Homo sapiens: one gene and its partners. The protein of the gene in region 3 interacts with the protein of the main gene of each other region in a pairwise test. Each region holds a gene or a part of one and is shown on either strand. Other genes may lie near its edges.

Evidence for each region.
Region 1: the proteins of APPL1 (region 3) and FSHR interact in a two-hybrid assay, tested with the Homo sapiens proteins (2 studies listed by BioGRID).
Region 2: the proteins of APPL1 (region 3) and MAGEA9 interact in binary tests that used the Homo sapiens proteins (3 or more experiments, as listed by UniProt).

What each region holds. Positions count from the first base shown.
Region 1 is NC_000002.12:48,975,714-48,984,799, forward strand, and holds part of FSHR (follicle-stimulating hormone receptor isoform 1 precursor), read right to left. Parts: intron 7,454-9,086; coding exon 7,385-7,453; intron 7,274-7,384; coding exon 7,199-7,273; intron 1-7,198. UniProt on the Homo sapiens protein: G protein-coupled receptor for follitropin, the follicle-stimulating hormone. Through cAMP production activates the downstream PI3K-AKT and ERK1/ERK2 signaling pathways.
Region 2 is NC_000023.11:149,776,241-149,785,731, forward strand, and holds the start of MAGEA9 (melanoma-associated antigen 9), read left to right. Parts: upstream 1-5,689; 5' UTR 5,690-5,755; exon of another isoform or gene 5,756-5,787; intron 5,788-6,242; exon of another isoform or gene 6,243-6,346; intron 6,347-9,491. Other genes in the region: HSFX1 (heat shock transcription factor, X-linked), read left to right, coding at 1-550. UniProt on the Homo sapiens protein: Not known, though may play a role in embryonal development and tumor transformation or aspects of tumor progression.
Region 3 is NC_000003.12:57,257,468-57,266,553, forward strand, and holds part of APPL1 (DCC-interacting protein 13-alpha), read left to right. Parts: intron 1-1,560; coding exon 1,561-1,613; intron 1,614-2,377; coding exon 2,378-2,552; intron 2,553-2,649; coding exon 2,650-2,686; intron 2,687-3,160; coding exon 3,161-3,307; intron 3,308-9,086. UniProt on the Homo sapiens protein: Multifunctional adapter protein that binds to various membrane receptors, nuclear factors and signaling proteins to regulate many processes, such as cell proliferation, immune response, endosomal trafficking and cell metabolism.

The DNA.
Region 1 (9,086 bases), on a different chromosome or scaffold from region 3:
TTGTATTCCTAGGTATTTTTATTCTCTCTGTAGCAATTGTGAATGGGAGTTTGCTCATGATTTGGCCCTCTGTTTGTCTATTATTGGTGTATAGGAATGCTTGTGATTTTTGCACATTGATTTTGTATCCTGAGACTTTGCTGAAGTTGCTTATCAGCTTAAGGAGATTTGGGGCAGAGATGATGGGGTTTTCTAAATATACAATCATGTCATCCGCAAACGGACAATCTGACTTCCTCTCTTCCTATTTGAATACCTTTTATTTCTTTCTCTTGCCTGATTGTCCTGGCCAGAACTTCCAACACTGTGTTGAATAGGAGTGGTGAGAGAGGGCATCTTTGTCTTGTGCCAGTTTTCAAAGGAAATGCTTCCAGTTTTTGCCCATTCAGTATGATATTGGCTGCGAGTTTGTCATAAATAGCTCTTATTATTTTGAGATACGGTCCATCAATACCTAGATTATTGAGACTTTTTAGCATGAAGTGGTGTTGAATTTTGTCGAAGGCATTTTCTGCATCTATTGAGATAATCATATGGTTTTTGTCATTGGTTCTGTTTATGTGATGGATTATGTTTATTGATTTGTGTATTTTGAACCAGCCTTGCATCCCAGGGATGAAGCTGACTTGATCGTGGTGGATAAGCTTTTTGATGTGCTGCTGGATTCAGTTTGTCAGTATTTCATTGAGGATTTTCGCATCGATGTTCATCAGGGATATTGGCCTGAAATTTTTCTTTTTCTTGTCTCTGCCAGGTTTTGGTATCAGGATGATGCTGCCTCACAAAATGAGTTAGAGAGGAGTCCCTCTTTTTCTGTTGTTTGGAATAGTTTCAGAAGGAATGGTACCAGCTCCTTTTTGTACCTCTGGTAGAATTTGGCTGTGAATCTGTCTGGTCCTGGGCTTTTTTTGGTTGGTAGGCTATTAGTTACTGCCTCAATTTCTGAACTTGTTATTGGTCTATTCAGGGATTCATCTTCTTCCTGGATTAGTCTTGGAATGGTGTATGTGTCCAGGAATTTATCCATTTCTTTTACATTTTTTAGTTTATTTGCATAGAGGTGTTTATAGTATTCTCTGATGGTAGTTTGTATTTCTGTGGGATCAGTGGTGATATCTCCTTTATCATTTTTTATTGTGTTTATTTGATTCTTCTCTCTTTTATTCTTCATTAGTCTGGCTAGCAGTCTGTTTATTTTGTTATTCTCTTCCAAAAGCCAGCTCCTGGATTTACTGACGTTTTTGAGGGGTTTTTCGTGTCTCTGTCTCCTTCAGTTATACCTAATGTAGATGATGGGTTGATGGGTGCAGCAAACCACCATGGCACGTGTACACCTATGTAACAAACCTGCATGTTCTGCACATGTATCCCAGAACTTAAAATATAATAATAATAATAAAATCCCCTCTCCTCTCTCTCTCTCTCTCTCGTTTCTGTCTTTGAATAACCTTGACTAATACAATGACTATTTGCTAAAGATAGGCTTAGAGAGAGGCCCAGAACATAAATCATGGCACAGTGAGGGAGGGTTATTTAGAATAGTTATTCTGGGCAATCATACTTGGAGGAGTAAAGGGAACCATGGGACGGGATTAGATCTCTGAGCCTTGATAGTCATGCAGAAGAGTTTAGGATTTATATGAGCAGAAGAATGGTTTATTCAAAGCTGGATTTTTGTAAGATTAGTCTTGAGAACCTTGATACCAGCATATGGTGGGTGTTCAATAAATAGTTGGTAAACTAATGGAAGGGGAAAGGACTGAGGGTAGGAAGGGGACAACGTGGCTTTTGCAGAAATTCAGGCCTAGGATGACAGAGGCTGTCTCCTCCCACACTATCACTTCACGTGTTAAAAGTCATTGTGTGACATGATGACAAGGGTTTATTAGGCATCTGCTGTATATTACTATAGCCATTTGTGAAAATTTCTGCAGTGCTCATTGTACTGGGGAGTAACATTCATCCCTTGGCCAGATGCATTACAGTAGGTACTGTTTTCTGTTTTCACATATATTTCTTACCCCTTGCCAGACACACAGTAGGTGTTTAATCAACATCCACTAAATGTATGTCATGTAAGACTTGATGCCCTCAATGAGTGCTTGAGAATGTTTACTTTATTCCTGCCCTTGTGCCTGGAACTGGTGGGCTGGACAAGCGGGGAGGGGTAGTTGTGGACTGGTGTTTTTAAACTTTATCTTTCAGGCTGGTCTCTTCTAATGATTTTGGTCTTTCTTTTAAAAATATCACTTTTAACGTTGCAACACATGCTATATTCAGATAGTGAGTAGTTTTGAGAATTTAAATCTTGAAAAGACCAGTGGATACCCCATGGGATTATGACTTGCACAGAAGAGACTTAGTAATTTAAAATTGTTTCCACATTGTTAGTACTCTTCATTTTGAGATACAGAGTAGCAAGAGAGACTGCATGGGTAGGAGGGTAGTAAGAGGCTGAGGCAGGAGAGGCAGGAGTTAAAAAGCACTCTGTGCCCCATTTAATAAAGTGTGTTATAGCCAGTGCCACAAATTTGATTTGAACAATTTCTATTTTTCCCAGCAAAGATGTTATTACAGGTCAATCATTTCCATAAGTGAGAGCACATTTCTGGTGTATACTACACTGACAGATGGCTAGAAGACCTCTCTTTCATGATCCCAGGCTGGATAAAAAGGCAATTTACTATCTATAGGACTGTGGGTACACTGGTAATGGAAGAGAACCATTCTTATACAAATAACTCAGTGTTTGAATCTGAACTATCAAATGAATCTGAGCTATAGCCAAATCAATTTGATAAACCATCAGAATATGATTGTACTGGCTCCAGCCTGCAAAGGCAATGCATTAAATTTTCCCCACAGGAAACTGTTTCCCAAAGAAACAGCAATTGTTCGATTGCTTAAAAAAAAACAACCTTGAGTGAGTTCAGAATATCAGGTAAAAACTCAGATGGCTGCTGATGTTCAAGGTCAAGACTCACAAGGGGGAAATGAGGATGCTGAGCTGCTCCTCTGAAACTCGATGAAACTTGTTTGTATGCCCCTGGCTTTCTCTGCATCTATCTTTCTTTGTGTGGAACAGTGCACCCTTGCACCCTCAGGTGTTCAGAGGCTCCCTATTCTTCCCTCAACTACAAATTTTGCCTTCAGGAAAGCAGCTATCATCAGTTTGAGTGTGTGCCCCTTAATTTTCTTAGAATTCCTTGCATATATCCACTGGAGAAAAAGGACTGAGCCAGTGAGGGAGGAAGATTCACCACATTTGGCTTGTGGAGGAGATATTTTGGAGACTGAGCAAGGCTTCCCAATTCCCAATATTGGTCCTAGGGCAGTAATTCTCAGAGAGCACTCTGGACAAGCAGCATCAGTTTCACTAGGAAGATGTTAGAGATACAAGTTATCAGGCCTCAACCCTGACCTACTGAATCAAAAATTCTAAAGGTGGGAGCTGGGTGTTATGACTCACGCCTGTAATTCCAGTGCTTTGGGAGTCCAAGGCAGGAGAATAACTTGAGGCCAGGAGTTTGAGATCAGCCTTGGCAACATAGTGAGACCCTGTCTCTGCAACAAAAAAAATGGCCAGGTGTGGTGGTGCACGCTTGTAGTCCCAGCTACTCAGAAGGCTGAGGCAGGAGGATCACTAGAGCTCGGGAGTTTAACGCTGCTGTCAGCTATGATGGCACCACTGCACTCCAGCATGGGTGATTAAAAAAAACCACAAAAACACCCCCCCAAAACCTACTCAACTCTGAACATGCTGCTCTAGGACAACTGAGAACCACTCACAGCTGAGGTGGCTCATAGCCGAGTCTACTCTGGGAATTGCCCTCAGCTGACTTTCTCCTCCCCAGGAGTTTGGTTCCTCCCCAGGGACAGCCTGCACCCAATAATTCTTGATATGGAGGACTTGCCCCTTACCTTAATTCAGTACAACTTTGAAGGACCATCTTAACTCCAGATCTCCCCATGGGATCAGCTGAGCCTTTTGTTGCAAATGCATTACCCTGATTCTGCTTCCATCAAGGGTTCCCTGTACATTCTGAGAGCACCCTCCGGTAAACCTCCCGCATGCAGATATATCACAGTCTTTGTGTGTGTGTGTGTGTGTGTGTGTGGGAGCGGGGACTGCAATCTGACCCAAGGCACAGTCAAGATCAGCATGATTTGCACCTACTGTGGTCTGAATAGCCTACGCATACTCCTACTCTTACCTCTTAACTCATCACCTGAGGTGGGCTGGTCTACTGCACACCTACACAAGCACCTCTCAGGCCAGGGTTTAGATGGTTTAGTGTATCTGGATGCAGAAGTGAGATGTGGAATAAGCTATTAGTCTTCTTGCATCTCAGGTCAGCAGGGGGAGAGGCTTGAAGAACATCTATGGACTGATCTGAAAGCCCCAGAAAGGGGGGCTTGATGTTAAGGTGAACAATTCTTTTGGCCCCAGGGGGAAAAGAGGAAATTCGCAATTATAGGCTGGGCTTCCAGCCAGGATCCTGCACTGAGATGGAAATATGTGGGAATGTATTATCACTCTCTACCTTTTTAAGTCATGGGGAGTGCTTCCTAATTCCATGGATTTTCTGTAAATTGTATTCCCTTAATTCTAGACAGATGTGTTCCTGTGGTAAGAAGGACAAAACAATGGGCCTATAACTTGAGGACCTTGTAGAATTGCTTCCGATGCTTTCACAGAGGCTCTCTTCCTGCCTGCGTTCACAGTGGGGCTAGATGGGGGATTCAAGTTTTGTGTTCTCTGTTAAACATTCTTATGAGATACATTGTGCAGTATCTTCGCCTGGAATCTGCTTGTGCAACCTCAGGAGATGTTCTTCTGTGCCACGTTTATCTAACATTGACTGGTGTTCTTAGGCTGGGAGGCTGGTGTTAATAGTTATTTTCCTCTCTATTTTAGCTCACAACCAGTTTCAGGGGGCCTCACCGAATAACTTTTAGATGTTCAATTAAACGTATTTATGGCAACATGGTATGGTGGGAATACATGGAATGTGAGGCAGAAGACCTAGTTTCTGGTCCAGACTCTGCCCCTTCTAGTTGCAGTGTGATCTTTAACAGATCACTCTCCTCTGGGTTCTGATTTCTTCAGTTGGATAATGAAGGAGTTGGGGGATCTCATCCAACTTCATTATTCTCGGGAGCAGATAGGTTAAGATGCTATAGATTCAATATTGTACCTGGTACAGGTCACATATATAAACACACCCATCACTGACATATTCTGCCATGAACAGATAGAGATGCCTTCTTAGGAACATTCAAAACTTTCAGGGCTTTTTGCTAAGTGAAACTGACATGCTGCTATTGTGGGGATCAAAGACATCAAAAGTACTTGTCAAAATTCATTTGTCTCCCGAGTACTCTAAGAACAGGGTACATGAACTAAGCAGTACAAGTTTTGAGTACTTTGTATTCTTGAGTACATGGACTATATGCCCAACACTCTCCATTTGTTAGCCCTGGGTCCTTCCTTGTACTTCATAGATAGATCATGACTTGATATATTAAGTTGTATATTTAATGTATTGCCTGACTCCTCTCTATTCCCACCCCCAATGAGAATATAAGCTTTCTATGAGGAGGAACTTTCCTTTGTTTCCTGCATGGCACAAGACTGATGCTTAAAAATTTATCTGATGAGTGAAAAAATATTTATGTGTGTGTGTGTGTTTTATGCTTCAAATAATATTAGGAAATAGGTATTGTTTTGGCCATTTTTTTTAGGTGAGGAAACCAAGGCTTAGAGAGGTAAAAGAATTGGTCTAAACCAAGGCAGTCTGCTCTGTATCTCCGCTTTAATCACACGGATACTCCATTTGTATAGGTTGCCTATCTCAAGCCAGGCATTCTCGAATAATCTTTGAACATGGTCAGGATGATAAATCTACCTTGAAGTGTATATTTCTTCTTCAAAGCAGCAGAATCTCATATATAGATCACAACACACCCTTTATCATTAATAATAAATATTTAAAATTCTGACTCTCCATACCAAGTCTAATTCTAGAGGTACACAGGTTCCAGCCTGAAGGAGAATATTAGCTATTTGGTGTAGACAAAAGTGATGCAGATAGATGGTTGGTCGGTAGGTGGGTAGATAACCACACATGGTAGCCTATGCTAACTGCCAAATAAGAGGTTCAGGCAGGTGGCTTCTAAACGCCTGACTTGACTTAAGGCAGGCTACATAAGGATCATTCAGTAAAACTGTAGATTTATTAACATGTTTATCTATTGCTCTGCTCACCATTCCTTCTTGTACCTCATTCTCTCCTTTTGGGTTCCTTTCTTCATCTTGAAGTACTTTTTTCAGTCAGTAAGTGTAGTAGGTCTTGCTTAGAGCCCAGGAACACATTTTTAAAAAGCCTTTTTGTGATTGTGATGCAGATTGTCCCCCCACCAAAGAAGCCTTAAAGGCCATGAGAGCCACGGGAAGAAGTCACTGATGGCGAGGTTGTCAGAGAGACTTGAGGAGGTAGAGGACTTTGGAATGATGCTTGATGGAAGGGGCAGTGTAGGTAAGAAGAGAAGATGGGAAAGTCACTTTTGGAGGGAAAGATGGAAGTAAGGAAATGACAAGAGGGAGGGGTGCTGATGCAGGGCTGTGAGGCACGGAATGCATCCCAAGGGATTTGGAAAGAGGATCCAAAAATAATGTGTATATAGGTCTCATTGGGTTGAAGGAACCTCCTGAGTGTTGAGGATGATGGAGAATTGTGCTTTCCTTTCCAGGGAAGAGACACATGATCGAGTGGTTGTGGGTCTGTACCATGAGTTAGATCAGTTTAAATCCCTGCTGTAACTCTTGTATAACCTTGAGTGGGTGAATTAACCTCTCCAGGGAAGCCAGTTTTTCCTTCTGTAAAACGGGAATAATAGCTCCTACCACAGGGGGTGATTATAAGGATTAAACAAGAAAATGCATCTTAACTTCTGAGAACGCCATCTGACACTCTGTACGTGCTCATTACATGTTATTATTAGTGTTGCTTTTTAATGGAGAGTTAGACCGTGGATAAGCCTTAAATTGTCTCTATAAATTTTTGCAGATGACACGAATAAAAATTGAACTTGATGGCCAGCCCTGTGTTGGAAGCTTCTCCCCTAGCTGCAGAGAGTTGACTTCTAACTTACACAAACTGAGCTCTTACACACAGAAATGGGGAAAGCTACTCACAGAATGACTGGTCCAGAGGCTCCGTGGAAAACATCATTAGGCAATTCTTCTAAATTATTATTATCGCTTAGATTCCTGGGGATGGGGTTGAGGAAAGAAGAAGGAAAACACAAAGCCACATAAATATTGCTGTTGTAAGAGCCATTTCCCTTTAAATGGCCTTGAAGAATAGTCAGGGCTACTTACAGCTCATCTAGTTGGGTTCCATTGAATGCACAGTTGTGTATTTCTTGAATCCCATTCTTATTCAGCCATCTGAAATAAAAGGCCTATTAAAAAACCAATAATGTCAGATGCAAACAATACACGGGTTTCATAATTGGAAGCACTGAGCAAGGGCAGACAGCACAGGTTAGTGGCATAAAGAAAATGCCACTTTTAAAGCTTGGGGACACGGGTGGGAGGAAGACTGATTTATTGCTGTATAATCTTTTGTAACTTTTGAAGTTTGTATTACTTGCATGTATTACCTATTCAAAGGATTAAATGAAATTTAAGTTTGAAAGGCATACTTAGGCAGAGCAGCCTGGATTCTATAACTGTAAGGTCTTTACACACATCATTTGTGTGTAGAGAAGCAATGCGGGGAGCGACAGATCTTTCTCATCCTGAAGGACAGGAATCGTACAATTATTGAACAAGTGTTTATAAGACAGAGAAAGAACATTTTGTGTCACCTTTCTCTAAGGCCTTAAGCCTTTCACCCATGATCACCCACAGCAGCAGGCCTGGCTGTCATCAAAAGTGATCTAATTAAGTTGTCAGACAACCTGAACATCTCCTGTGACCCATAGGGACCTGGTTATTGGAGGTTTGTGGAGGTGGCTCTGGGTTAAGCCAGAAAGGAAGAGAAATCAATTACAGAGAATGTGGGCTGTGGCAGGGTGAGGTGATCTGAATGAGCAGGGGAGGAGGTTCTGGGGGAGGTGGAGATGGGTGTAGAACAGCCATCCTGATTGCGCTAAGAAGGTCAGTGAGCAGGGTTCCCTGGACAGGGGAGCCCAAGGACACCTTGGGCTACAGCTCTGCCTTGCTCTGCTCCTGAGTGGATCTGAAAACAAAAACAGATACCAAGGTCAGGAGAGCTTAGCCCGAAGAACCTCTGACTACCTGCTCTTGTTTTGCTGTCAGGTTCTTTTCCCTGTCCAGCTTAGTGGGCTTGCAAATAACACTGTACAGAAAGCTGACCCAGAGAAGCTCCTGTGCATCCAGGACTCTCTTTCCTGGGCTGCCATGGGTAGCCAGAAAACACTTAAAATCACAGGAGAACAACTGTATGTCTTTTTCCTCCTCTTGAAAACCAATTACCTAAAAAAATCCAGAAAGGGGCGAGGCAAATCTTTTAAAACATTCACAATCAATTGGTGGGTTCTGATGGCAAAGAAGTGGCTATGCACCCCCAATGCCATTTGAGAAAGCCTCTCCCAGGCACATCTGGACTCCTGACTGTTGCAGGATAGTGGGAGTTGCTGAGGTAGCTGTGGCATGTGGATCCCTGGGGATTTGAATCAAATACAGGATTCAGCAAACTTTTTCTGTAAAGGGCCTGATAGTAAAGTTTAGGTTTTATGGGCCAAAAGGCAAAAATAAAAAATATTATATAAGTACTTTATGTACTTATAAAACAATTACCACAATTTTTTATTGACCAAATTCAAAGTGTAATAATTGGGTATTTTTTTTTTTTGTAATATAGGCCTAATATTGAGAAGAGAATTTTTAGTGGGGGATAACATTTTGCTTAACTTAGATCTAATGTTAGTGTTTCCTGTCTTAGCTCATGAGCTGGATTTGGCCTCTGGGTTATATGTAGTTGGCTGACCCTTAATCCATACAGGTTCCACCTATTTGCCTATTGACTAGATAATTAATATTTCTTGCATATTAC
Region 2 (9,491 bases), on a different chromosome or scaffold from region 3:
AGATCACACGTCTCCGAATGAGAATGACCAGGTCACACCGCAACACCGGGAACCGGCCGGTCCCAACACCCAAATCAGGAGTGGCTCTGCTCCACCAGCAACTCCTGTGATGGTGCCTGATTCCGCCGTGGCGAGTGACAACAGTCCAGTGACCCAGCCGGCCGGCGAGTGGTCAGAGGGCAGCCAGGCTCACGTCACTCCGGTGGCCGCTGTCCCTGGGCCTGCAGCGCTGCCCTTCCTCTATGTCCCTGGATCTCCCACTCAGATGAATTCTTACGGGCCTGTGGTGGCCCTTCCCACAGCGTCCCGTAGTACCCTTGCCATGGACACCACAGGACTTCCTGCACCTGGCATGCTGCCCTTTTGCCATCTCTGGGTACCGGTGACCCTAGTGGCTGCTGGGGCTGCACAGCCTGCTGCCTCCATGGTCATGTTCCCCCATCTCCCAGCTCTGCACCACCATTGCCCCCACAGCCACCGCACGTCACAGTACATGCCAGCTAGCGATGGGCCCCAGGCGTACCCAGACTACGCAGACCAGAGCACATAGAGGGCAGCATTTGGGCAGAATATGTGCTGGTCAATAAATGTGTCAGAAAATGAGTAATTTTCTGACTGCACAAAAAAGTCTTCATGGTCTCCATCCTTTTTCTTTCTTTGCAGTCCAGTACCCCCCTCCGACATCTTTGGCTTGCATGATAGAGACTTCAGCCTAACACGCCTCCCTGGAAAAGTGCCCAGGAGATACTCGAGCAGGTGCTGGGTTTTAGGAAGCCCCTCAGACATCCCGCCTCTACTCATTAAAAATTACCTGGAGCTGGCCGGGCGCAGTGGCTCATGCCTGTAATCCCAGCACTTTGGGAGGCCGAGGCGGGTGGATCACGAGCTCGGGAGATCGAGACTGTCCTGACTAACACGGTGAAACCCCGTCTGTACTAAAAATACAAAAAATTAGCCGGGCGTGGCGGCGGGCACCTGTAGTCCCAGCTACTCGGGAGGCTGAGGCAGGAGAATGGCATGAACCCGGGAGGCGGAGCGTGCAGCAAGCCGAGATCGCGCCACTGCACTCCAGCCTGGGCGACAGAGCAGGACTCCGTCTAAAAAAAAAAAAAAAAAAAAATTACCTGGAGTTGCTCGCTGAGTGCTAATTGTGCTGCTAGCATTGCCGGCCTAGGGTTCACAATGACTCTGTGTTACTGGCCATTCCTTGTCATGGCGGTGCCTTTATATAACAGGATCTTCACTTTACATACAGATGAGATCACGTCTGGCTTTGTCATTGGGTTAAAAAGTGCCCTTGATAGTTGTGGAGGTGACACATACTACCAAGGAGTCCTACGGGTTTGCAGTTTAGAGGGTGCTCATTAGTGTCTGGTGGACAGGATTTATGTTTGGCTTTTATGTCTGTACTGGATCTGGTGGGGTTTTTTACTTCCTTCCTTGATTCCCCCACTATGCCCCCACTTTTTCTTTCTTGTTTCCCTTCCTTCCTACTTTCCTTTCCTCTCCTTTTTTCTCTCTCTCTCTCTTTGCTTCCTTCTTTCCTTCCTTCCTTCCATCTCTCTCTCTCTCTGTGCTTGCTTGCTTCCTTCCTTCCTTCCTTCCTTCCTTCCTTCCTTCCTTCCTTCCTTCCTTCCGTGTCTCTCTCTCTCTCTCTTTCCCTCCCTTCCTTCCTTCTCCTTTCTTTTGGAGTCAAAAATTAATTTAAAAGATGTCATGTCATGTTTTAACTTAGGAAGCAGCCTTTTCTGCTCACTTGGGGTGTTCATCTTAGAACACATGCTATCATCGACGAACTTCTTTGACTGATCAGAGGAAATAGATTCAAGTTCTTACCGTAGACACAACTGGGCACAGACATCAAAAGAGCTCTGAAATCAGGGCGTGCAGAGAGCCCCAACACCCACACACCAGAACCCAGAGGTATCCCTGCCTGTGATTTTTAATTTGACAGTAGGTGGCAGAGTCCTGGGAGACGTGGGAAGAGGCCATAAGAGAATGCAGACATGGGAATGGATTAATCCAGAGTCCAGCCATGGTCTGCAGGTGGATCTCCCTGTCTCGGCCTGCTCACTTACAAATGGGTGCTCATTTACAAATCGGTGTGAATCACATTTCATCATTTGTGAGCTCCTTAGTTTCCAAGAAGTACAGTTTTCTCATGTGTTTCTTGGACTTTATGCATATGCCTCCAGAGTTTGAATCATGCAAAGATGCTGCCACTTAAAAACCTCTTTCCTACAAACTTACACCCCTCCGATCGTGGTTTTCCTGTGAATCTCAGCTGGGCACGATGGCTGACGCCTGTCATCCCAGCACTTTGGGAGACTGAGGCAGGTGGATCACGAGGTCAGGAGTTCAAGACCAGCCTGGCCAAGATGGTGAAATCCTGTCTCTACTAAAAATACAAAAAATAGCCGGGCACGTTGGCAGGCACCTGTAATCCCAGCTACTTGGGAGGCTGAGGCAGGAGAATCGCTTGAACTCAGGGGGCAGAGGTTGCAGTGAGTCGAGATCACGCCACTGCACTCCAGGCTGGGAGACAGAGTGAGACTCCATCTCCAAAAAAAAAAAAAAAAAAAAAAATACTGTTAGAAGAATGGAAAAAACTATATAGATGGAGAGAAAATATTAGTAATCTGATATCTGATAAAGAACTCATATGCTGAATAAATACCAAACATTTAACATTCAACCTTTGAAAACAAAGAATCCAACTAAAGATGTAAATGATTTGAAGACATTCACCAATGAAGACACGCAGAAATACACATACATTCACCAATGAAGATACACACATGAAAAGATGATCACCATAATTATTCATTAATAATGCAAATGTCAACAGCACTAAGATTCCTCTACCCACCTATTACAATGGATAGAATTCAAATACCTGAGAATATCAAATTCTGGAGAGGATGTGGGATTCTCATTCATAGCTGGTAGACAAGAAAAATGTTTCATTCACTCTAGAAGGCCTTTTGGCCCTTTCTTATGTAGTAAAACATAGACTTACCTTTAGATCCATCAGTCGTACTACTAGGTTTTACCTAAGTGAATTGGAAACTGGTTCTCACATGGAAAATCGTGTACACGAATGTATTAGTAGTTTATTCATAATCACCAACCAAGATGTCCTTGAAGAGGTGAATGGATAAAACCAATGGTACTTCCACAAACTGAAAGTGTATTCAAAGTTCAATCTACCCTCAAATATTCCAGGACAGGAAATTTTGGAGGCCAGTTCAGCCAAGTGGCAAGGGAAAATGAATCACCATCTTATCTCAACTCTTCCAATGCATCCAAAATGGGCAATTGTTTAACTCATTCTCCCAGGCTCGCTCTCCTAGATTCATAAACAGATGAAGGCACCCGAGCACTCATGAAAAGAATTTGTGAGGCAAGTGTTCACACACATCGCAGCAAATGTCATAAACAGATAATCACATATCCAACACAACAGTGGATTAAACGAACAAGCTGCCTGTATGCATGGAATAAAAATAGGATTAAATGTTAGAAAAAAATTCAATTCTAACTCCCTGCATACAAGATAGACTAGAAAAAAACATTCAGTCATGACAATGGGTACAGGAAAAGGCTCTGAAATGAATTCTATGTAAGTACAAATTAACAATGTTTAGCAAACTAACATTAAAAGGAACTTCCATTTCCTAAAATTGGCAGCAAGCATACATAAATGTGAAATGTCAGAAGCTCTGCCATTCACGGCAGTGACAAGTCGTTGACATATGCTGTCACCACTACCACCTACATCTGCAGTGAATATCAAAATGAAAAAGAGCCAGAGCTATGGATGTCAAGATGAAAATGAGATATGAAGACTGCAAAGAAATAGAGTATTTGTTAACTATATGATTATCTACATAGAAAATTCAAAGGAATAGACACATTGAATATTCAAATGAATAAAAGACTTCAGAAAACATCATACAGAAGGTCATTAAAGCAAAATCAAGAGCCTTGCCACACAAAAGCAACTTAGTATATAAAATAGAAAATAGAAAATGCACCATTCACAGCAGCATTAAAATCCAAAATGTAAATAAGAAGAGCCTGACAAGACCTTTATGGAAGCAACTGTGCAAAGTTGCTGATAGACTCAGGAAATAATCTCAAGTAAATGGATCTGTATACCATATTCCTTGATGGGGAACAGAATATGGCAAAGATGTAAATGCTACTTAAATTAAATACAGAGTGAGTGCCTTAACTGTCATTGCCAAAGTGACAACCAAGCTCAGGTTGCTGTGCTCTGCTCCCCAAATCAACCCCGGAAAAAATATAGGAGGGAAAAGATTAAAAAAAAAAACCCATCAAAACAGAGAAAGCCCTGGGGATGACTGAAGACTGTGCTAAACTAGTACTTGTGTTTTGGGTCCAGGGAGCAGCAGGGAAATCGAGGAGGTCTGTACCCTGCATAGATGGCAGATTACAGGATGGATAGGAGAAAGTGTTTAACATTCCACCCCACATCATCGCGCAATCTGAGGCAGCACCACAAAATCTGATGCCAGTAGCCCTGGAGTAATATCAGGACACCAGGAAATTTGAGTTGATTGAGACACTATGGCTCCAGAGTTCTGCTAACAACCACCTGAAACAAACTTAGTAGGAGAAGACCAGCCTTCCAAAAAATTATTATTTTAATGGAATATAAAGAATGAACTAGGAATAGAATAGTAAGTATGTGTGAAGGCCACATACTATGAGTAGATATTAATAAAATATGTGTGCATATATATAGTATAAAGTCTAGAAATACAAACGAATATGTAGCTAAAGATATATACATGTAAGTAAATATAAGATATAAAGATATATATGCGTGTATGTATACATATAAGCATAGATGTATATAATGTCTAAAACAGGTATGTATATAAACGTAGATATAAACAAAATGTACAATACCATATATAATGTACACATACAGTGTAAAATTTATTACCATGTGAATGAGAATTAAAATATGAAAATCGCTAATCTGGACTCTGCTGTGTTCGATACCTTCAAAACACATGGCTTCTCCAAATCTCTTGCTGCTGCTCAGCCTCTTCCGTGTAAAAATAAATCTTTTAGGACAAAAGGTTTGCAAAGTCTAGCTCTGGCTGGGGAGGAGCCCCCATGGGATGGTGTGCATCTTCTCTCACAGGTCCTACAATCACAGGTGCTGCAGCCCCCCAGGGAGCATCTAGCCTGGGACCCGCAGCCATTCTCTGCAACGCGTGCAGCTGGGCAAATGCTCAAAGGTGACATAAACAGATCATCTCCCACACATCACTTCATCAAAGAGCCAGGAGCCAGGAGGAGAACCCTCCTGAGAGGGGACTGAAGGTCCAACCTCCCCACATAGAGGGGCCACAGAATCCAGCTCAGCCCTTCCTGTCAGCCCTGGAAGACCCTGGCAATGTTGTCACCCCGACCACACCCCTCCCCTCACTGCCACCTCATGTGACTGGGAGTCAGAGACTTGGTCCGAGAGGAGCAGACCCAATGGGCAGAGAATGGGGATCGAGACCCAGGCATCAAGGTCAGGACCCCCTGAGGGATGACTGAGGGCCCCTATCCCCATCCCCACCCCTACTCCGCCAGAACCCGGTTCAGCCCCTACTGGCAACCCAGGGAAGCTCCAGGCTTGGGGGCCGGATGTGACGTCACTGACGTGCGCACTGGGGGTCAGAGAGAAGGGAGAGGCCTCCTTCTGAGGGGCGGCTTGATACCGGTGGAGGTAAGCTGGCCGAGGCTCTGTGAGGAGTCAAGGTGAGGTGCTGAGGGAAGACTGAGGATGTCCCCACCCCAGATAGAGGACCCGAAAGAACCAAGTGCCGTCTCTGCTCCCAGCCCTGGACCACCCGGGGGCCGATCTGGGGCTGACTTGTGAGGCTGGGCCGACCCCCTCCCTCCGCCGCTCAAGCTGCTGGGCACTCTGGAGTGAGAGCTTGGTGTGACCAGGGCAGGGCTGGTTAGGAGAGGGCAGGGCCCAGGCTCTGCCGGGCATCAAGGCCAGGACCCTGAGGGAGGCTGGGCCCCCCCAACCCAACCATGACCTACAGCCCCAGGTTCCCCAGCCCCATCCTCAGCTCCACTCTACACCCCACCCCACCCCACCCCACCCCACCCCAAACTCCACCCCACCCCCCCAACTCTCCCGCGGCAGAATCTGGTTCCGCCCCTGTTGTCAACCCAGGGAAGCCCCAGGTGCCCGGATGTACGGCCAGTGACTCCCACACTGGGGGTCAGAGAGTAGCGGGGGCCTCGCTGTGAGGGGCGGGTCGATATCGGTGGAGGGAAGCGGGCCCAGGCTCTGTGAGGAGGCAAGGTGAGACCCTGAGGGAGGACTCAAGACCCCCCGCCCCAGATAGAGGACCCCAAATAATACAGCGCCGCCCCTGTGCCAGCCCTGGACCACCCCGCGGGGTCGGGCGTATCAGGCTGGGCCCAGGCTCTGACTGGCATCAAGGTCAGAACCCTGAGGGAGGGCTGAACGCCTCCACACCCCTAACCCAGCCACCACCACCATGACCTACAGCCTCAGGTTCCCCACCTCCATCCTCACCCCCCCCCCCACTCCACCCCACCCCCAAGTCTCCCGTGGCAGAATCCGGTTCGGCTCCTGCTGTCAACCCAGGGAAGCTCCGGGTGCCCGGATGTAAGGCCTCTGACTTGCGCACTGGGGGTCAGAGAGTAGCAAGGGCTTGGTTCTGAGTGGTGGCTGAAGATCGGCAGAGGGAAGCGGGCCCAGGCTCTGTGAGGAGGCAAGATGAGACGCTGAGGGAGGACTGAGGACGCCCCCACTCCAGATAGAGGGCCCCAAATAATCCAGCAGCACCCCTGCTGCCAGCCCTGAACCACCCCGGGGGCGGACTTCTCAGGCTGTGGGCCACCCTTCGCCACCCCACCACTTAAGCCCCAGGGGACTCTGGGTCAGAGCTTGGTGTGACCAGGGCAGGACTGGTTAAGAGAGGGCAGGGGCCAGGCTCTGCCAGGCATCAGGGCCAGGACCCTGAGGGAGGGCTGAGGCCCCATAGAGGGAGTCACTGCCCCTGCAGTGGACCCTGGGAAGTTCCGGGCATGGCGGTCAGGCAAGCGGATCGTGATATCTGCATCCTGGGCTGACCGAGGGAAGGGGCTTGGTATCGTTAGCGTGGCCGCGGGAGAACAGAGGGAGGGCCCAGGTCCTGCTGGGAGACAAGGGAGGCCTGAGGGGACCCAGTACCCCAGGACAAGGGGCCCACCCCGCCCCTATCTGAGACCGAGGCCCCTCCTCATTCAGCCTCGGGAATCCGACAGATGGAGACTCAGGTCCACAGAGGGGTGGGGCCCAGCCCTCTAGGAGACCAGGGAAGGAACAAGACGGAGGACAGAGGGGACCCCGGAGTCCAGCTCAGTGGGGATCTTGGCCTGGGCGATCCCGGGCACGGTGGCCGCATGTGGTGCATTGTGGCTGGTGGGATCGGGTGTCAATGGGAACAGGGCTGTGGTATGAGGAGTGGGGCCTCAGGTGAGCAGAAGGAGGAGTCCCAGAGGCCTGAGGAAGGATTCACCAGACCTCTCATCCCAGACCTAGGAAACCTGCCCCTGCCGTCAGTCTTGGAAGGCCCCAGGCAGGACGGTGAGGAAGGGAAGTGCCCCCTCCACCCCCAACACACACTTTCTCAAAGAGGGTCTAAGGGAGAAATTGGCCTTGGTCTGCAAGACTCACCTCTGGTTCAGCAAAATGGAAGGGGCCAGATTCTGTCAGAAGCAAATATGAATACCTAGAGGACACCCAGACCGACGAGGCCCCCTGGAACCTGCTCCTTTGGTCAGCCTTGGGTATCTCATGCATGAGTGACCATGAGGTGGCCCCTCACTTCTGCCTCCCGGGTCTCCGGGAGGTGGGGGCCTTGGTCCGAGGGGTTTCCTCAGCTCAGCAGAGGGAGCCACACCTGGTCAGCACAGGGTGGAATCCAGGGTCTTCCAGGAGTGACGGGGAGGAAGTTTGGTGAGGACTGAAGGTAAGAAGGTACCTCCACGCTCTCAAAAAAGAAAGGACCTCACAGACACTGGTGTCACCTGTTCTCAGCCCCAGGTGGCCCCAGGCAGGAATGGCATGAGGCATGCTCTCATTTCTCCCACGTGACTGGGGGTGAGAGGTCTCAGGGAGGTGAGTACCTTGATCCCAGGGGGCACTGAGAGATCCAACAGAGGGCTCCACACCTGGTCAGTAGAAGGAGGACTCCCAGGATCAGCAGGACCCAAGGTGTGCCCCCTTCATGAGGAATGGAGGTACCCCCAACGCAGAAAGAAGCCACCCCACAGAGTCTAGGTGAACTCTGTTCTTAGATCTGGGGGCGGGGGGGGGCCTGATCAAGGATGGTGCTAAGTGGCAAGCTCATTTGTACCACGGCAGGAAGTTGAGGAACCCTCAGGGGGATGAGGCGTTGGTGTAAAGGGAGATGTCTGCTCATCTCAAGGGTTTGAGGGTCGAGGAAGTAGAAGCCCCAGCAGGAGTAAAGATGAATAACCCGCAGGAGGACTTTGGAACACCCACCTCATACCTGAAGGGTTCAGCTGGTGGGGTCAGCCCCGGACACCCCACGCAGGGGTGACATATGTGGGGCCTCCTCACCTCTGTTTCTGGATCTCAGGGAGGTGAGGACTTTGTTCTCAGAGGGTGTGTGTGGACAAAACAGGGAGGCCCTGTGTTCGACAGACACAGTGGTCCCAGGATTGGAGAGCAGTCCAGGTGAGGAACCTAAGGGAGGATCGAGGGTACCTCCAGGCCAGAGAAACTCTCAGATCAAGAGAGTTTGCCCTGCCCCTACTGTCACCCCAGAGAGCCCGGGCAGGGCTGTCTGCTGAGGTCCCTCCTTTATCCTGGGATCACTGGTGTCGGGGAGGGCTGGCCTTGGTCTGAGGGGGCTGCACTCACGTCAGCAGAGGGAGGGTCCCAGGCCCTGCCAGGAGTCCAGGTGCAGACTGAGGGGACCCCACTCACCAAACACAGAGGACCTAGCCCCACCCTGCCCCTTGTGTCAGCTGAGGGAAGCCGCTGGGTGGATGGACTCCCCTCACTTCCTCTTCAGGTGTCTCCTGGAGATAGGGCCTCAGGTCAACAGAGGGAGGGTTCCAGACCCTGCAGGCATCAAGATGAGGACCAGGCAGTATCCTCACCCCAGGACACATGGACCCCATTGAATTTAGACATCTCTTACTGTACTTCCGAGGAAACCCTGGGCAGGTGTGGGCAGATGTTGGTTGGGGCATGTCCTTCTGTTCCATATCAGGGATGTGAGCTCCTGATCTGAGAGACTCTCAGGCAAGTAGAGGAGTAGAGTCCAGTCCCTGCCAGGAGAAAGGTCAGGGCCCTGAGTGAGCGCAGAGGGGACCATCCACCCCAAAAGTGTGTAGAACTCAAGAGTGTCCAGCCCGCCATCTTGACAGCACTGAGGGACCGGGGCTCTGCCTGCAGTCTGCAGCCT
Region 3 (9,086 bases):
TAAGGCTTATAATCCCCTGTCTGCATTTCAGAGTCATCTCTTATTTATAATGTATATCAGCTATGTTGTACTTTCTTTGTTTAATTATGTAACATATTGTTAGGGAAGAACCATGCAGGTTTTTTTCTCTATGTCTTCTGCCTCAGTTAAGGAGTTAAGATAATTTAGTTTCCAAATATTTAATTCTGTATTGCTTATTAGGTCTATTTCTTGGATACTTGCTCTTAAAATTGCAGAAGAAAGTTGATAGCTGTCTTTAGGTCATGACAATTTTTAAAAAATTCTTGAGGGTAATACATGTGATATAGGTTTATTAGAAAATATTATCTTATACCAGAATAAGAAATCTTCAGGAAGTTACTAAAACATTATCACTATTATGAATTATGAATGAGTCATTGTTTAGTTGTATGATGAATATTCTCACCAAAGCAGTTAAAATTTTTCCTTGGCTGTGATTGAAGGAAACATGACTTAAGGCAAATCATTTATTAAGTAGAGTGGACACCTAATAAACTGATAATATATTAATTTGGATATACATGGCTGTGACCCAGAAAAAGTCATTTACATTTGATCACAGAAATACACTTAGCATTTGATGTAATAGGACACATACTAAAGAGATTAATTTCCTGTTATCTTACTGTCAGTGTTTTTTTAGAACCACTTAGCTCTCTGCTTCCAAAACCTACTTTGTTTTGTTTTGAGATGGGGTCTCACTCTGTTGCCCAGGCTGGAGTGCAGCGGCATGATCATAGCTCACTGCAGCTTTGACCTTCTGGGCTCAAGGGATCCACCTGCCTCACCCTCCTGAGTACCTGGGACCACAGGCGTGCGCCACCACACCCAGCTAATTTTTAAATTTCTTTGGTAGAGACGGGTTCTTCCTGTGTTGCCCTAGCAGATCTCAAACTCCCAGGGTCAAGCAGTCCTCCTGCCTCGGCCTCCCAAAGTGCTGAGATTACAGGTGTGAGCCACAATGCCCAGCCCTCCAAAACCTACTTTGAGTTGTACTTTTCTTCCTTCACTGTGGTGTGCCACAAGCCATGCACACTAAGGAGGAAGGTAGCTTCCATCTCCAGTTCACTTTTCTTTTTGCATTGTTACTTACGCTTTAAGAAATACAGGTTTAAAACTAGATTATAGGTAACTTGTAACATGTACTTACAGAACCTAAAAAGAAGTTTTTACAATTCCAGGACATTCTTGGCATTTTTCTCAAGCAACTAAGATTGCAGTTAAATAAGTGTTCCTCTGTGCTAGCTTATTTAAATTCAAGAACTTTTGCAACATGGTTTATTATGTTGATTTTTTGTTGTGTATGTCTAAACTTCCAATTCATCTGTGTCTTCTAAAGTGCACCAACATTGATCAGTTAGTGTGTGAGGGCAGAGGCCTTCATCATAGTAATTTAGTGATCAATAGTGTTTCTTAATAGGATGGGGCATTTTAGAGCTTTTTTTTTTTAAATGTTAACTGTGGTTTTAATAATTAGATTTCTTCTATGTGGCTCATGGTAACTGACCATGTGTTCATATTTTCTTCTAAACTTTTTAGGCGTACAAATCCATTTGGAGAATCTGGAGGAAGTACAAAATCTGAAACTGAAGGTAAGACAGATGTGCAGCATTCATATATTTTAGAACTGCTTCTCAGCAAACTGTGAATAATTTATTGTTTATATTTGCTCTGCTACTAAGCTCAGTTTTAATGCTATCTTTACTTCAGAATTTCCTCTACTTACTTATAGTACACTTGAAGCAACAGAACTTAATCTGACTTAAGATGTTGTGATTCATACAAAACGATAGACTCTCATACTTTTGACTTTATAGTCAAATTCAGTGCCTAAGATACCTTTCAAGCTTTTCCTAACAGCTGATGTTTCTCTTCTGGTACTGGAGCATAAATTTTGTTTTTCCGCCACTAACTATTTATTTGAATTCTAAACTTACAGAAATGCTGTAAGAACCACCAGTTGTTGTGTGTTTGTGTGTGTGTGTGTGTGTTGAGACAGGGCTCCCTATGTTGCCTAGGCTGGTCTCGAACTCCTGGGCTCAAGGGATCCTCCTGCCTTAGCCTCCCAAAGTGCTAGGATTACAGGTGTGAACCACCACGCCTGGCCTCAGAACTGCCAGTTGTTGAAGCATTACTTTTAGCTATTTGAATTTGAAACCCTAATTTTCCTATAACTTGGAATACTGTAGTTAGGAGTTATTTTGAAATGTCTCCCTTAGGCTGTTGAATTTTTCACTAGAAAACCTAAAAGGAGGCAGTGTATTTTATTCTTTTGGAAAAGAAATATGGCGAAAAAAATAAAATGTAAATTTATACAGTAAAAAAAAAATATGTAATACACCTTGTTCTATTATAGATTCTATTCTTCATCAGTTATTTATTGTCCGATTCCTTGGTTCAATGGAGGTGAAATCAGATGACCATCCAGATGTTGTTTATGAAACTATGCGCCAAATCTTAGCTGCCCGGGCCATCCATAACATCTTTCGTATGACAGAATCGCATTTATTAGTCACTTGTGACTGTTTAAAGTAAGTAAAACCCTCCCTTAAAAAACTGTAGAAAAAACATTTACATGATTTCAGCCTAATTAAAATTTGTTTTCCAATTTTTAAATTATTATTTTAGGTTAATTGATCCACAGACACAAGTTACAAGGCTCACGGTGAGTTCCACATGATTTAAGCTTTGTTTTAGGTCCCTTTGTATATATACACATCTTACAACTTGATAATAATCCTGATCCTGTATATTCAAGTGTGATAGTATCAGCTATGATTGGTCTTTGGCTGTTGTAGTTAAGTCTATGGCCATCTCCAAAAAGTTGTCATTGAACATTTTATGTAACTTAAAAGAATTAACACAATTCTTTTTGTAATTTTTTTAACACAGTTCTTTTTGACTTTGTAAAATGTGTTAATGACTAATAAAACAAATGTAATATTCAACAACCTTTTTCTGCTTGTTAATTCAAACCAAATATGACATTACTTGTTTCTGCATTACAAGTCTGTTAAAATAATTGGCTTTAATATATTAAAATATTTATATTTTTAGAACTTAGCATATGAGTTTGTCACAAGTGCTGCTGTAATGACTTGTAAGATCTCATGTTTGCTTCTGATGTTTTCTGTGGCAGTTTCCATTACCTTGTGTAGTTTTGTATGCTACACACCAGGAAAATAAGCGCCTTTTTGGATTTGTTCTTCGGACATCAAGCGGGAGAAGTGAAAGTAATCTGTCATCAGTCTGCTATATATTTGAGTCAAACAATGAGGGGGAAAAGGTACATGGCTTTTCAGAATATCTCTGTCATAACCACTTACTAATTGATTCTTACTAAGATTTAATAATAATTAAATTCTTACAAATTAAATTAGTTAGTAATTACTGATTGAATTCTTTACAATTTATACAAATTTATGAGGCACATGTGAATTTTGTTACATGTATAGAATGTACAGTAAGCAAGTCAGGGTATTTAGGGTGTCCATCATCCAAGTACAATACATTTTTGTGAAGTATAGTCACCCTACTCTGCTGTCAGATATTAAATATATTCTTTCTATCGTAATTTATGGTTGTACCCTTTAATCAGCTTTTCTTCATCCTCCCCCTTTCCTCATCACTCAGCCTTCCCAGTCTCTGTTGTCTGTCATTCCACACTCTGCCTCCACGTGATCAATTTTTTGGCTCCCACATACAAGTGAGAACATGTGATATTTGTCTTTTTGTGCCTGGCTTATTTCACGTAAGATAATGACTTCTAGTTCCATCCACGTTGTTGTGAATGACATGATTTCATTCTTTTTATGGCTGAATAGTACTCCATTGTGTATATGTACCACATTTTCTTTATTCATTTATCTGTTAATGAACATTTAGATTGACTTAATATCTTTGCTATTGTGAATAGTACTACAGTAAACATGTGAGTGCAGGTATCCTTTTGATACAGATTTCTTTAATTTTGGGTAGATACCCAGTAGTGGGATTGTTGGATCGAATGGTAGTTCTATTTTTAGTTTTTGTTGTTGTTGTTGTTTTTGAGACGGAGTTTCACTCTGTCGCCCAGGCTGGAATGCAGTGGTGCGATCTTGGCTCACTGCAACCTCTGCCTCCTGGGTTCACGCCATTCTCCTGCCTCAGCCTCCCGAGTAGCTGGGATTACAGGTGCCTGCCACCATGCCCGGCTAATTTTTTGTATTTTTAGTAGAGACGGGGTTTCACCGTGTTAGCCAGGATAGTCTTGATCTCCTGACCTCGTGATCTGCCTGCCTCAGCCTCCCAAAGTGCTGGGATTACAGGCGTGAGCCACCATACCCGGTCTATTTTTAGTTTTTTGAGAGATCTCCATACTGTTTTCCATAGTGGTTGTACTAGTTTATGTTCCCACCAACAGTGTATGAGTTCCCCTTTTTTCTGCATTTCACCAACATCTGCTATTTTTTGTCTTTTTAGTGATAGCCATTCTGACTAGGGTAAGAATGGCTCATTGTCATTTTGATTTGCATTTCTCTAATGATTAGTAATGTCGAGCATCTTTTCATATACCTGTTGGCTGTTTTTGTGTCCTTTAAGAAATGCATATTCATATCCTCTGCATACTTTTAAGTGGGATTATTTGATTTTTTCCCTGTTGAGTTCGTTGTATATTCTGGATATTAGTCCCCAGTTGGATGAACAGTTTGCAAATAATTTCTCCCATTCAACAGGTTGTCTGTTTACTCTGTTATTTCTTTGGCTATGCAGACACTTTTTAGTTTAAGTCCCATTTGTTTATTTTTATTGCCTATACTTTTGAGGTCTTAGGCATAAAATCTTTGCCGAGACCAATGTGCAGGAGAGTTTTCCCTTCATTTTCTTCTAGTGTTTTTTTTTTCTATGGAAAATAACCTTTTTTTTTTTTTTTTTTTTTTTTTGAGACAGACTCTTGCTCTGTTGCCCAGGCTGGAGTGCAGTGGCACAATCTTGGCTCACCGTAACCTCCACCTCCTGGATTAAAGTGATTTTCCTGCCTCAGCTCCCAAGTAGCTGGGACTACAGTTGTGTGCCACCATGCCCGGCTAATTTTTTTAGTAGAGACAGGATTTCACCATGTTGGCCAGGCTGGTCTTGAACTCCTGACCTCAAGTGATCCACCTGCCTTGGCCTCCCAAAGTGCTGGGATTACAGGCATGAGCTGCCACACCCAGCTGGAAAAAGAACCTTTAATAGAACAATTATTGAGAATATCGTACTAACAAAGTTTCTCAAGAGACTAATTAGAGCTAAAATGGTGAAAGTAGGATGATCTTTGTTTTTCGTTTTTTGTGGGTACAAGGGGTGTGTGTGTGTGTGTGTGTGTGTGTGTGTGTGTATGCATTTTTTTTTTTTTTTCCAGATGGAGTCTTGCTGTGTCACCTGGGCTGGAGTGCAATGGCGCGATCTTGGCTCATTGCAACCTCCGCCCCCTCGGGTTTAAGCGATTCTCCTGCCTCAGCCTCCTGAGTAGCTGGGTCTATAGGCATGCGCCACCACGCCCAGCTAATTTTGTATTTTTAGTAGAGACAGGGTTTCTCCATGTTGGTCAGGCTGGTCTCAAACTCTCGACCTCAGATGATCCGCCTGCCTCGGCCTCCCAAAGTGCTGGGATTACAGGTGTGAGCCACCTCGCCCAGCCAGGTGTATATATTTATGCAGTACATGAAATATTTTGCTACACTTATGCAATGCGTAATAACCACATCATGGAAAATGGAGTATTCCTTCCCTTAAGCATTTATCCTTTGTATTAGAAACAATCCAATTATACTCTTTTAGTTATTTTTAAATGTACAATTATTATTGACCGTAGTCCCCCGTTCTATCAAATACCAGGTTTTATTCATTCTATTTTTTTTTTTTAATCATTAACCATCCTCCCACCCCCCATCCCCACACTACCCTTCTCAGCCTCTGGTAACCACCCTTCTGTTCTCTGGCTCCATGAGTTCAATTGTTTTGATTTTTAGATCCCACAGATAAGTGAAAACATGCAATATTTGTCTTTCTGTGCCTGGCTTATTTTGCTTAACATAATGACCTCCATGTTCCATATATCTTATTGCAAATGACAGAATCTCATTCTTTTTTATGGCTGAATAGTACTCCATTGTATGTAAGTACCACATTTTCTTTATCCATTTTCTTTATCCATGTATCATCCATTCAAATGACAGAATCTCATTCTTTTTTTCTGGCTGAATAGTACTCCATTGTGTGTGTGTGTACATTTTCTTTATCCATTCATCTGTTGTTTTTTTTTTTTTTCCATTCATCTGTTGATGGACACTTAGGTGGCTTCCAAGTTTTAACTATTGTGAACCGAGCTGCAGCAAACATGGGAGTGCAGATGTCTCTTCAATATACTGATTTCCTTTTTTTAGGTATATACCCAGCAGTGGGATTGCTGGATCATATGGTAGCTCTATTTTTAGTTTTTTGAGGAACCTCCAGACTTTTCTCCATAGTGGTTATACTAATTTACATTCCCACCAACAGTGTACAAGGGTTCCCTTTTCTCCACATGCTTCCCAGCATTTGTTATTGCCTTTTTGCTATAAGCCATTTTAACTGGGGTGAGATGATACATTGTAGTTTTGATTTGCATTTCTCTGATGATCAGTGATGTTGAGGACCTTTTCATATGCCTGTTTGCCATTTGTATGTCTTCTTTTGAAAAATGTCTATTCAAATATTTTGCCCAGTTTTAAATCAGATTAAGGTTTTTCCTATAGAGTTGTTTGAGCTCTTTGTATATTCTGGTTATTAATCCCTTGTCAGATGAGTAGTTTACAAATATTTTCTCCCATTCTGTGGCTTGTTTCTTCACTTTGTTGATTGTTTCCTTTGCAGTGCAGAAACTTTTTAACTTGATGAGATCCCATTTGTCCATTTTTGCTTTAGTTGCCTGTGCTTGTGGGGTATTACTCAAGAAATTTTTGCCCAGACTGATGTCCTGGAGAGTTTCCCCAATATTTTCTTGTAGTAGTTTCATAGTTCAAGGTCTTAGATTTAAGGCTTTAATCCATTTTAATTATATTTAAAAAAATTTAAAAAAAAATAAAAAAAATAAAAAAAAATTTTTTTAAAAAATATTTTTGTATATGGTGAGAGAGAGGGGTCTAGTTTTATTCTTCTACATATGGATATCCAGTTTTCCCGGCACCATTTATTGAAGGGACTGTCTTTTCCCCAATGTATATTCTTGGTGCCTTTGTCAAAAATGAGTTCGCTGTAGTTGTGTGGATTTGTTTCTGGATTCTCTATTCTGTTGCACTGGTCTATGTGTCTTTTTTTTTTTTTTTTGCCAGTACCATGCTGTTTTGGTTACTATAGCTCTGTAGCATTGTAATTTGAAGTCAGGTAATGTGATTTCTCTAATTTTGTTATTTTTGCTCAGAATAACTTTGGCTATTCTGAATCTTTTATGATTCCATATACATTTTCAGATTGTTTTTTCTATTTCTGTGAAGAATGCCATTGGTTTTTTGATAGGGATTGCATTGAATCTATAGATTGCTTTGGGTAGTATGGACATTTTAACAATATTGATTCTTCCAATCCATGAACGTGGAATATGTTTCCATTTTTGGTGTCCTCTTCAATTTCTTTCATCAGTGTTTTATAGTTTTTTGTTTTTTTTGTTTGTTCTTTTGAGACAGAGTCTCATTCTATTGCCCAGGCTGGAGTGCAGTTGCATAATCTCGGCTCACTGCAATGTCTGCCTCCCAGGTTCAAGTAATTCTCATGCCTCAGCCTCCCAGGTACCTGGGATTACAGGTATGCGCCACCACCACCTGGCTAATTTTTGTATTTTTAGTAGAGATGAGGTTTCACCATATTGGCCAGGCTGGTCTCAAACTCCTGGCCTCAAGTGATCCACCTGTCTCGGCCTCCCAAAGTGCTGGGATTACAGGCCTGAGCCACTGCGCCCAGCCTGTAGTTTTCATTATAGAGATCTTTCACTTTGGTTAACTCCTGGGTATTTAATTTTATCTGTGGCTATTGTAAGTGAGATTACTTTATTTATTTCTTTTTCAGATTGTTCACTGTTGGCATATAGAAATGCTACTAATTGTTGTATGTTGATTTTGTATCCTGAAACTTTACTGAATTCATCAGTTCTAATAGTTTTTTGGTGGAGTCTAGGTTTTTCTAAATATAAGATCATCATATCATCTGCAAACAAGGATAGTTTGACTTCTTCCTTTACAATTTGGATGCCTTTTTTCCTCTCTTACCTGATTACTCATCTTCCATCTAAAAGGTGGAAAGGCTTTTTGTTTTTCTGCATTCAGTATGATACTAGCTGTGAGTCTGTCATATATGGCTTTTATTATGTTGAGCTATATTCCTTCTATACCAAGTTTTTTTGAGGGTTTTTAATCATGAAGGGATGTTGAACTTTATCAAATGCATTTTCAGCAGTAATTGAAATGATTAAATAGTTTTTGTCCTTTATTCTGTTGATGTGATGTAGCATATTGATTGATTTGCATATGTTGAACTATCTTTGCATTCCTGGGATAAATCCCACTTGGTCATGATAAATGATCTTTTTAATGTGTTGTTGAATTTGGTTTGCTAGTATTTTGTTGAGGATTTTTGCATCAATATTCATGAGATATATTGGCCTGTAGTTTTCTTTTTTTGATATGTCTTTGTCTGGTTTTGGTATCAGGTAATACTGGCCTCGTAGAATGAGTTTGGAAGTATTCCCTTCTCCTCTATTTTTTGGAACATTTTGGGTAAGATTGGTATTAGTTCTTCTTTAAATGTTTGGTAGAATTCAGCAGGAAAGCCATCAGGTACTGGGCTTTTCTTTACCAGGAGACTTTTTATTATGGTTTGGATCTTGTTACTTGTTATTGGACTGTTCAGGTTTTGGATTTCTTCGTGGTTCAATCTTGGTAGGTTGTATTTGTCTAGGAATTTATCCATTTCTTCTTGATTTTCCAATTTACTAGCATGTAGTTGCTCATAGTAGCCACGAATGATCCTTTGAATTTATGCAGTATCAATTGTAATGTCACCTTTTTAAT